Linked DNA regions of Homo sapiens. The protein of the gene in region 2 purifies or fractionates together with the protein of the main gene of each other region. This does not show direct contact. Each region holds a gene or a part of one and is shown on either strand. Other genes may lie near its edges. The genes, in order: CEP97, FAM83A and SUGP2.

Region 1 (3,651 bases), on a different chromosome or scaffold from region 2:
ATGGCTGAATTTGGCAGGAAATAATCTTAAGGTGAATGGTTTCTTTTTTGTTTACAAAACTATTCTGCGTAAAAAAAATTCAAGCAATGTAGAAATAAGTCAAATTAAAAAGTGAAAGTACCCACTCCCACTCTCCAGGGATAATCTCTGTTAAAATAAACTAAAAATAAATCTCATTTTGAAACATATAATATGACATAATATTCTTTTAAATTTGAACAAAGAATCTATATTGTACTTAGAAAAAAGTAGATCAAACCATAGAGTGTTTAGGAGGGAGACTATATCATGCTGAATTAAGCTTTAAGTAAATGTTTAATGCTATAAGGGAGAATATACAGTTTTAAAAGTTAGGAGATCTGAATTCTAGTCCTACTTGCACTACTTAGTAACTGTGTAATTTTGGGTAAATTAATACATATTTCTGCGTCTTATTTTTTGGCATGCTAGCTGAGAGGACTAGATTACCAATAGCTGCCTTTTATTGAGCCATTAATGTATCTGAGCTACTGTTCTAAACATTTATCTGTATTAACTTATTCAATCTCATGGTAGCCTGCGAAGTAGATATAGACATTATGCGTGTTATAAAGGTGAAGGAACTAAAGCACAGAAAAGTAACTTGCTCAAGGTCACACAGCTAGGAAGTTGCAGGGCCAGAATGTAAATCCAGGCTGTTTGGTTTTAATCTAAACTTGTAAACTCTATTCTATACCACCAACTGTCATATATTATTACTATGGTTTCTTTTGTTTTTTTTTTTTTTTTGATGGAGTTTTGCTCTTATTGTCCAGGCTGGAGTGCAGTGGCACGATCTTGGCTCACTGCAACCTCTGCCTCCTGGGTTTAAGCAATTCTCCTGCCTCAGCCTCAAGAGTAACTGGGATTACAGGCGCCTGCCCACCATGCCTGGCTAATTTTTAGTATTTTTTTAGTAGAGACAGGGTTTCGCCATGTTGGCCAGGCTGGTCTCGAACTCCTGACCTCAGGCTGTCCACCCACCTCGGCCTCCCAAAGTGCTGGGATTACAGGTGTGAGCCATAGCGCCTGGCCATTACTATGTTTTTTTTCAAGCTGTAAAGATCTTGGATGGTATGAACTACTTGGTAGCCCTCTACTCATAGAGAGATAATGAAAGTGTACGTTTACAACCTGACAATCTACTAAATTCTGTTAGTACTGCCCCTTTTCTCTTGCTAAGTTCTTCTACTCTGCTTCTAATAATAAGAGGAGGGAAGACACTCTTTCAGCTGCAAAGAACTAGGGAATAATTTTATTTTTTGATTTTGTTTTCATTAAATAGTGTGATGCTTTTCTTGTGATAGGCCATGGAACAGATCAATAGCTGCACAGCTCTACAGCATCTCGATTTATCAGACAATAATATATCCCAGATAGGTGATCTATCTAAATTGGTATCCCTGAAAGTAAGTATGTTTTCTTTGTCATTTGTGAAGTTTTATAGCAAAATACCAAGAGAAAGTAATCTTACTGACCTAAAATTAGCCTGCTTTGTATGAGCAGATTGCTTTCTTTATGATAAGAATTATGGGCTGGGCATGGTGGGTCATGCCTGTAATCCCAGCACTTTGAGAGGCTGAGGCGAGTGGATGGCTTGAGCTCAGAAGTTCAAGACTAGCCTGGGCAACATGGCAAAGCCCCATCTCTACTAAAAATACCAAAAATTAGTGGGGCATAGTGGTGCGAGCCTGTAGTCCCAGCTACTCAGCTAAAGCAGGATTGGTTGAACCCAGGAGGTGGAGGTTGTGGTGACCCGAGATTGGGTCACTGCACTCTAGCCTGGGCAATAGAGTGAGACTCAGTCTCAAAAAAAAAAAAAGGAATTATGTTAGAATACCAGAAATTAAGTTTGAAACTTTTTGTTGTTAGTTATATAACTCATTTATTTGATGTGAAACTGGTCATTGTAGTTAAGGTTAATTTTATTTACCATTCTCTGAACATGATGGAATTCCCTGTATGCCCAATCAACCAATATTAGTAACTTCAGTTATTATATAGTACATAATCTTTGGTGAGGTTGAGATTAATCATTCCTGAATTTGAGTCTGTCTTTATTTTTTTTTGAGACAGAGTCTTGCTCTGTCACCCAGGCTAGAGTGTAGTAGTACAATCTCACTCGACCTCCCAGGCTCAAGTGATCCTCTCACCTTAGCCTCCCAAGTAGCTAGGACCATAGGCATGTGTACATCACCACACCCAGCTAATTTTTTGAGTGTTTGTAGAGATGAGATCTTTTTCTTTTCTTTTTTTTTTTTAGATAGAGTTCTGCTCTGTCACCCAAGCAGTGGTGCAATCTTGGCTCACTGCAACCCAAGCAGTGGTTGCAGTGGTGCAATCTTGGCTCACTGCAACCTCTGCCTCCTGTGTTCAAGTGATACTTCTGCCTCAGCGTCCCGCGTAGCTGGGATTATAGGCGCCCACCACCACACCTGGCTAATTTTTTGTATTTTTAGTAGAGACAGGATTTCACCACGTTGGCCAGGCTGATTTTGAACTCCTGACCTCACATGATCCTCCTGCCTTGGCCTCGCAAAGTGTTGGGATTACAAGCGTGAGCCACTGCACCTGGCCAGAGATGAGATCTTACTATGTTGTCTAGACTGGTCTCAAACTCCTGGACTCTAGCAGTCCTCCTGCCTCAGTCTCTCAAAGTGCTAGGATTACAGGCATGAGCCACCGAACTGGCCGAGTCTGTTTTTTTGTTTTGTTTTGTTTTGTTTTGTTTTGTTTTGTTTTGTTTTGTTTTGTTGAGACGGAGTTTTGCTCTGTTGCCCAGGCTGGAGTGCAGTGGCGCAATCTCGGCTCACTGCAACCTCTGCCTCCCAGGTTCAAGCGATTCTCCTGCCTCAGCCTCCTGAGTAGCTGGGACTACAGGTGCATGCCACCACGCCCAGCTAATTTTTGTATTTTTAGTAGAGATGGCATTTCATCATGTTGGCCAGGCTGGTCTCGAACTCCTGACCTTGTGATCCACCCGCCTCGGCCTCCCAAAGTGTTGGGATTACAGGCATGAGCCACTGCGCTGGGTCCCAAGTCTGGATTTTTTTTTTTTTTTTTGACATTCAGAATTGCTGTTTTTAAAGTAATAGGTATTAGCTAATTGTCAAAATTAATTTCACTTAGAAAAAAACATGTAGCATGTAGCACTTTTTATGGAGGGGAATGTATCATGCAGTCAAATAAGTAACAGTTGAAATCACAGTCTTGAAAAACATGTAGAACATTTTAAATATTGTTGCCTCATTGGATATTATTACCATCAGATATGTTCATTAAGCCCTAGAAGCAGTATCTTAGTTCACTTTTTCCCAGATCTTTAGCAGAAATCATTTTTAGCAATAATTATTCTAAACATTTTGATGTAGCCAGATGTTGTCCTAATAGATGCTAAGAGAATTCAAATGAACCAAAGATGATTGAATTTTTTTTTTTTTTTTTGCTGGAATAGAAGCCTATTTATCTGATCAGAATCCTGGGTGTTCAGTTTTGGGTTTATTCTTGGTTGTTGCTGACTTAATGTGAGTCAGCTTTATCTGCAAGTAACACATTCTACCTCCCTTTATTTTTTAGTTACCTAGAGAATACAGTTGCAATTATGGATGTAGGTTATCACTCTCTTTTTTGGAA
Region 2 (3,651 bases):
AAGCTGCTTTCAGTGCTATAAGGCTAAATGTGTGCAAGACAATTAATTGTGTGATTACAGGGCCATGGTTCTAATGATCACAGCCTCATTATTAGAACATCTTTTCCGATTTCCTGCCCAGGGTGAGCAATCTCTGAGGAGTTCCCTCCCCTGTCCAGCTATCCATCCACATCACAGAAAGTTGATTCCAAGTGGATACCAGCCATCAGTTTGGCCTGCCAGTAAGACACCTCTCTTTCCTTGGCTACTTCCCAGATGGCGGTGGTTTTAAAAAATATATTGCAATGATTAGAAAGATAGTGGAAACTTATTATTACAGGTAATCTTGAAGAAAGGGAATGGCCGTATTCCCTGTGAAAGGAAAGTATCTTTGGCCCCCAAAATCACTAAGGAAAACTCAAGCTGGAAACTGCTTAGGGCAAACCTGCCTCCCATTCTATTCAAAGTCACCGCTCTGCTCACTGAGATAGATGCATATCTGATGCCTCCTTTGGAAAGACTAATCAGAAACTCAAAAGAATGCAACAGTTTTTGTCTTACTTATCTGTGGCCTGGATGCTCCCTCCTGGCTTTGAGTCTTCCTGCCTTTGCTTCCAGTTGTCCCACCTTTCCAGATTGAACCAAAGTACTTCTTACATCTATTAATTGATGTCTCATGTCTCCCTAAAATGTATAAAATCAAGCTGTGCCCCGACCACCTTGGGCACATGTCGTCAGGACTTCCTCGGGCATGTCCTCAACCTTGGCAAAATAAACTTTCTAAATTAACTGAGCCCTGTTTTATTTTCTGGGTTCACATCCCCCATCCTAACATGACTGTTAGTTTTTGCTTTGGGCTTACCTACAATCATGTACGGAATAATGACATTTTGGTTACTAACAGACCACATCTATGACAGTGCTCCCATAAGATTATAATGGAGCAGGTGGGGTGGCTCACTCCTGTAATCCCAGCAATTTGGGAGGCTGAGGCTTAAGGATTGCTTAAGCCCAACAGTTCGAGACCAGCCTGGGCAACATAGTGAAACCCCATGTCTACAGAAAAAAAATGAAAGAGAGAGAGGAAGAAAAGAAAGAAAAGAAAGAAAGAAAGAAGAAAGAAAGAAAGAAAATTAACATTTTAAATTTTTATGTATTTTCTTATTTTTTTATTTTGAGACAGAGTCTCTTTCTGTCACCCAGGCTGGAGTGCAGTGGTGCGATCTCGGCTCACTGCAACCTCTGCCTCCTGGGTTCAAGCGATTCTCTTGCCTCAGCCTCCCCAGTAGCTGGGACTATAGGCGTGCACTACCAGTCCAGCTAATTTTTTTTTTTTTTTTTAGTAGAGACGAGCTTTCACCATGTTGATCAGGCTGGTCTCGAGCTCCAGATCTCAAATGATCCGCCCGCCTCGGCCTCCCAAAGTGTTGGTATTACAGGCGTGAGCCACCGCGCCCGGCAGTAATTAACATTTTTAATGACTGCCTAATAAGCTGCTTGTCAGTATATCACAATTAAGGTATTAGAAAGGACTCATGACTGGGTGACAGAGAGTAAACCCAAACAAGCTTAAGAAGAAGAGAAACATTCATTAACATCCACAGTGGAAAAGTCAAGGGTGGCACTGGTCTCAGGCATGGCTGGAACCAGGTGTCCAAATGACAATGCTGGGACTCTGTCTCTACCTCCTGGCTGCTTTCTCCAGGGATGGCTTCATTGTCAGGCAGGCTCTCCCCAAGAGGTAGCAAAAATGGTTGCCAGCAGCCATTGCTTATAAAATACCAGCTAAGCAACCTCGTAGAAAGAACACCTCCTTTTCCCAGGAGTCCCAGCTAAAGTCCTGGGCTGACTCTTATTAGAATAACTTAGATCATGTGACCACCTCTGGACCAATGTCTGTGGCCAACAGGGGATGCCATGCTCCCATTGGTCTAGCCTTGGTCATGTGGTCTCCCCATATCCAGTCAAAGAATGGCAATAGACCCTTCCAAACCACATTGATTGTGGAGGGGAGGCAATTACTTAAAGTCAGATTGGGATGCTGTTGACAGAAGAAGGGAGAATGAATGCTTGGCAGGAGGAACACAGATGTCTCTCCTGCTCACTGAAGGTCTAGAACTCCCCTCCCCAGTTTCTACTGTGACACATGATGCAGTAGCTGTGGGTAGAGCGTGACTCCCTTCTCCATCCCACGGGGAGCAGCTTGCTCTAGGCGCTTATATACGGTGCCTCCACATGGGATTTTGTTTGAGGATAGGATTCCACGGCTTAACAGCATTTGAAAATCAGTGGCCATAGTGTGCCCTCTAGCTCCAAGTGGCTGAGAATCCATAACCTTAACTTTATTCCTCTTCTGGAACCGGTTGAGATGCTTCTTCTTGTTCTTCTCTGCTCTCCTTCTCTTTCTAGACTTTTCCCTTCCTCCTCTGCACTCCCCACTCCCACAATGGGCATAGGGGCCAACAGATAGGTGGTGGGACTGGAGAGATGGTATCAGGACAGGCGCAGGGGCCTCCACTCCAGCTCTTCCTTTTCCTTCCATTAATCCTGCCCAGTCAGACCCACTCTACCCCATCCTCTCCCCTCTGGCCCAATGGGAACAGCTCTCCCAGGCCCACTGGGACTCAGGCAGTTTGGGTGAAACCAGTTAGCACCTGCCCCTGACCTTTCTGGTAACTGAGCACTCTGCCCTGGCCCAGGTCCTGGTCATCCTGATGGATGTGTTCACGGATGTGGAGATCTTCTGTGACATTCTAGAGGCAGCCAACAAGCGTGGGGTGTTCGTTTGTGTGCTCCTGGACCAGGGAGGTGTGAAGCTCTTCCAGGAGATGTGTGACAAAGTCCAGATCTCTGACAGTCACCTCAAGGTAGGGGCCCCAATGAGAGTCCTAAGGGTACTCATATTAGCCCAGATAGGATAGTCTATGCAATAGTAACAAATGTCCCTCATCTTGTGTTAATAGCTTAACACAATAAAGGTTCATTTCTTGCTCAAACAAACTCCTATGTAGGTCAGATGGCCCTCCTCCATATTGTAGCTACATCATGAGAAATACACGGCCTCTAAGATAACCATGACAGGGAAAGAGAAGGCTGGGAGACTCTGCAGGATGTTTCCAGGATCTGACCTGGAGGAGATTTCCATCGCTTTCTCTTATAACTCATTGACCTTACCCAGATGCACGGATGCTGGGAAATGTAAAGGGTCATGGGTATCTGGTGAGCAGCATCTCTGCCATGTACTCCAGTTCTCCTCTCAGCTGGGGAAGCCCAGGGATTGCATCTTACAGGGCAGGCAACCTCCAGGGTCTGTGGGTGCATGTTCAGAACTCCCTGGTCCCAACAAGACATTGATCCTCTTGGACTTAACTGAACCCCGTACTTCCCTCTCCTGGCAAAGAGAAAAGAAACCCAGCGATAAGGGTTTGATTCATCACATAAATTTGAGGACAACTAATTCAAATGTGAACACCACCCATAGCTTTCATGAGTAGGCCTGGGTGAACAGCTGATTGGTGGCCCTCAGAGTTCTTTTGATCAGTCTCCTCTAGTTCAGGCAAGAGAGGTTCTGTCCTCTGGGAGAACCTCCCAGATAAGAATGAAGCCTCCTCCCTCCCTCCCTTCCCCTCTGCACAGATGCAGCTGAGTTCAGTGCTGCCTCCTGCTGCCACA
Region 3 (3,651 bases), on a different chromosome or scaffold from region 2:
TTTTTTTTTTTTTTTGAGACACAGTTTCGCTCTTGTTGCCCAGGCTGGAGTGCAGTGGTGTGATCTCAGCTCACTGCAACCTTCACCTCCCAGGTTCAAGCGATTCTCCAGCCTCAGCCTCCCGAGTAGCTGGGATTTCAGGAATGCGTCACCACGCCTCGCTAATTCTGTATTTTTAGTAGAGATGGGATATCTCCATGTTGGTCAGGCTGGTCTCAAACTCCCGACCAAAGGCGATCCTCCCGCCTTGGCCTCCCAGAGTGCTGGGATTACAGGTGTGAGCCAGCACACCCGGCGCAGGTCTGGTTTTTATCTCATCAACTACCCAAAGAACTGAGAGCTTCTAATGCAGAAATAAAAAACTCCACCTCCCCCCAAGAAGAGCATACATAACAAGCACTCTGATACACTACCTGCCATCCGTGACAAGTTTAATTATTTACTTCATTTTTTTTACATTAATTTTTTTTTCTTGTAAAGATTAGGTCTGGCCATCTTGCCCAGGCTGGTCTCAAGCTCCCGGGCTCAAGCGATCCTCTTGCCTCAGTCCCGCTAAGCTGGGATTACAGGCACGAGCCACTGCGCCTGGCCCCATGAGAAGTTTTGAAGGATGGTAAAGGTTATAGTAGAATGGTTAGCATTTCACTGCAACACCAAATTTTTCAAACACAAAACATGAGGACTATTCCAAAGCAGGAAAAACCATAAGGCCACTGTCACATGTAAATGTGACTGTCTGAATGATGTAGAACACACAGGTGACTGTTTAACACAGTCCCACAATGGGGCACCATTCACTACAACTTCACACATAGGTTTTGCAGCAGAAGTCCCATGTGAAAGCACGGTCCAGGCCTGACTGTGGGGAGACAGCTTGGAGGGCATTGGGGGCACAGGAGTCATCTGGGCCACGGCGTGCCCATCAAAAGGCCACATGCGATGCAATTCTATGTACTGACAGACTAGGAAAGATAGAATACCTGGGGCTTGGAAAACAGTCAGTGGTTGCTGAATCGGGCAGGGGACTGCAATGGGACAAGAGACCCGTTCTGGGAACAGGCTTCAGCTCTGCTGTACTGGTGGGTTCTCGCCTCTGCACAGTCAACAAAATTCAAATGGTCCACTTGAAAAGGGTGCGTTTCACTGCTGGTAAATTATACCTCAAGAACCCGGAACCTCCCCACAGGAGAGCAGGAGATGGCCTCTCATGGCCGAGGCAGGTCCCACTGACCACTGCCTGGGACCACCCCTGCTCTGTTCCCATCTCACTGTCATGACATGAAGCAGCTTATCAGCACCCTGGGCCTTCCAGGGGCTCAGAAGGGCCCCCAGCTGACAAAGTCACAGGCAGGAAAACAGCTGAGATGACCCAGGCCCATCCCCTCCACAGTTGGGGATGCCCCGACCTGAATCCAGGCAATCAGGGAAATGTCCAGCAGCAAGTAGAGTGCCAGAAGCCACAGGGTAGCAAGGAAACATGTCCTTAGAGCAATGCCTTCAGACCACTGGGAAACATGAGTGTCGGCTCACATTTTGGAGTGGTGCACAAAACTCTTTTGGATTAAAATGTCTCCACCTGTCTCTTCTAACTCTCACAGCCCACCAACCAAGAACTGTGCTAGAGGCAACTGTGCCGACAGGCGGGCACTCACCTTTTGGCTCCTGGATGAGACACACTCTCTTGGGAGCTGGAATCATGCCAACCTTCAATGACTTGCTGCTGATCCTCTTCCGAGGGAAGCAGGTACCTGAGGAGGCCTGTGACAAGGCAGGTGCTCCAGCCAGGTCGTCCTCGGCAGCCTCGCCGGGAAGGCCGTCGGCAGGGGTGCTGCCCTCAGACTTGCCCGCCCCTCCAGGAGCGGGGGCCTCCTCTCCCCCATCCTCATCGTCCTCGTCCTCCTCCTCAGGCATCACCTCTGGGCTCTCCAGCTCAGCCTCCCGCGGAGGGGGCTCGTCTTCAAACTCTGCTTCCCCTTCCATGAGGTCCACGGGGCTCTCCTGAGAACCCGTGGTGTCACCACCACCAGTGTGAAGGTTGTGCGGAGATGACGTGAAACAAATTGATGGACATAGTTCAAACACTTTCTTTCGATAGAATTTGAAAGCAGAACTATTTTGGTCATGTAGAAACCTGGGGCACAGAGGAAATACATTGGGTAACCAGATGGAATCTCTCAACATTTTTATTTGCTGAAACTGCTGGGATTGATCCAAGGAAGGTGGAGGTGGGACAAGGGAAAGAATAACCTGACCAGTCTCTACGCGGCTATGGCTTGATGGTGCAGCCTCTCAATGATAGAAAATTTGAGGAGTACTAGTAACTTAATAAGGAGCTAGAATTCAAGAAGCCTAACTGCTTTCCAGGGGACAGAGGCGGACGAACAAGGTATGCAGGGCTTGGGAAAATGCTGGAATAGAGATCTGGCTTGAGACCCATCTCACCCTTTCTGGTTACATCACTGGCCTCTCTGGGCCTCCATGTGCCCATTTTGACTCTGGTTCCTCCCAGGTATGAGAAGCATGGAGCGATGCCAGGAGGAGCTGCACAGTTACTGCTGGAACATGTGCACCATGGAACCGTAAGGTGCCCCCCGAGGAGGCTCCTCACCCCTAGCACTTCCCGCTCTGGGGCCTGCAGTCCACCTACATGGGCGTGGAGATGAGGCCTCTCTGTGCCTCAGGGGTCTGGTGGCCACCTCGACTTGTAACCACAGCTATGAAGCTGTGGCTGGTATGAGAAACTTGAAACACTCCCGAAAGCACCAAAGTCCACTTGGACCAAAGGAAAAATGGCCCTCGTAAGGCAACTCAACCTCATAAATGTGCCAAGTCCCCCCAGTTAGCATATTAATATATCCCAATAAAATCCCATTCTGAATCAGGGCAAGATGGTTCTAAAGTTCATAAAGAAAAATAATATGTAAGAGTATCTGGGAAAACTCTGAACAAGACTCATAAGGGGTTCCAGCCCCACCAAGCACTATAAAATGCCCCAAAGCCTCTAGAGTTAAACAGCATAGTAGTCCATAAGGCAGACCAAAGGAACAGAATAGAAAGACCAGAAACCCAGCATTTGATTAAGGTAACCTCTCAAACTACTACAAAAAAGGGGTGGGTCTTTCAAAGAATGGTATTGGAAAAGCTGGACGGCTTTATAATTATTATTACACATTTTTAGAGATGGGGTCTCACTCTGTCGTCCAGGCTAGAGTGCAGTGGTGTGATCACAGCTCACTGCAGCCTCAAACTCCTGGGCTCAAGAAATCTTCCTACATCAGCCACCCAAGTAGTTAGGACCACAGGCAAATGCCACTATACCAGGCTAACAAACACACACACACACACACACACACACACACACACACACACACACACACCACACACACACACCACACACACATACAACTAAATATCAGCAGAAACAAATGAATCTGGGCCGGGCATGGTGGCTCATGCCTCCCAGCACATTTTGGGAGGCTGAGGCAGGCAGATCACCTGAGGTCAGGAATCCAAGACTAGCCTGGCCAACATGGTGAAACCCCGTCTCTACTAAAAATACAAAAATTAGCTGGGTGACACCTGTAATCCCAGCTACTTGGGAATCTGAGGCAGGAGAATCGCTTGAACCCGAGAGGCGGAGGTTGCAGTGAG

What was found.
Region 1: the proteins of FAM83A (region 2) and CEP97 purify together in Homo sapiens (affinity purification with mass spectrometry; one large-scale study listed by BioGRID and IntAct). This does not show direct contact.
Region 3: the proteins of FAM83A (region 2) and SUGP2 purify together in Homo sapiens (affinity purification with mass spectrometry; one large-scale study listed by BioGRID and IntAct). This does not show direct contact.

What each region holds. Positions count from the first base shown.
Region 1 is NC_000003.12:101,727,511-101,731,161, forward strand, and holds part of CEP97 (centrosomal protein of 97 kDa), read left to right. Parts: coding exon 1-31; intron 32-1,303; exon of another isoform or gene 1,304-1,325; coding exon 1,326-1,427; intron 1,428-3,651. UniProt on the Homo sapiens protein: Acts as a key negative regulator of ciliogenesis in collaboration with CCP110 by capping the mother centriole thereby preventing cilia formation. Required for recruitment of CCP110 to the centrosome.
Region 2 is NC_000008.11:123,189,125-123,192,775, forward strand, and holds part of FAM83A (protein FAM83A), read left to right. Parts: intron 1-2,678; coding exon 2,679-2,846; intron 2,847-3,651. UniProt on the Homo sapiens protein: Involved in mitochondrial maintenance during adipogenesis. May be acting by playing a role in the maintenance of normal mitochondrial function.
Region 3 is NC_000019.10:19,002,516-19,006,166, forward strand, and holds part of SUGP2 (SURP and G-patch domain-containing protein 2), read right to left. Parts: intron 2,132-3,651; coding exon 1,653-2,131; intron 1,094-1,652; coding exon of another isoform or gene 999-1,093; exon of another isoform or gene 981-998; intron 1-980. UniProt on the Homo sapiens protein: May play a role in mRNA splicing.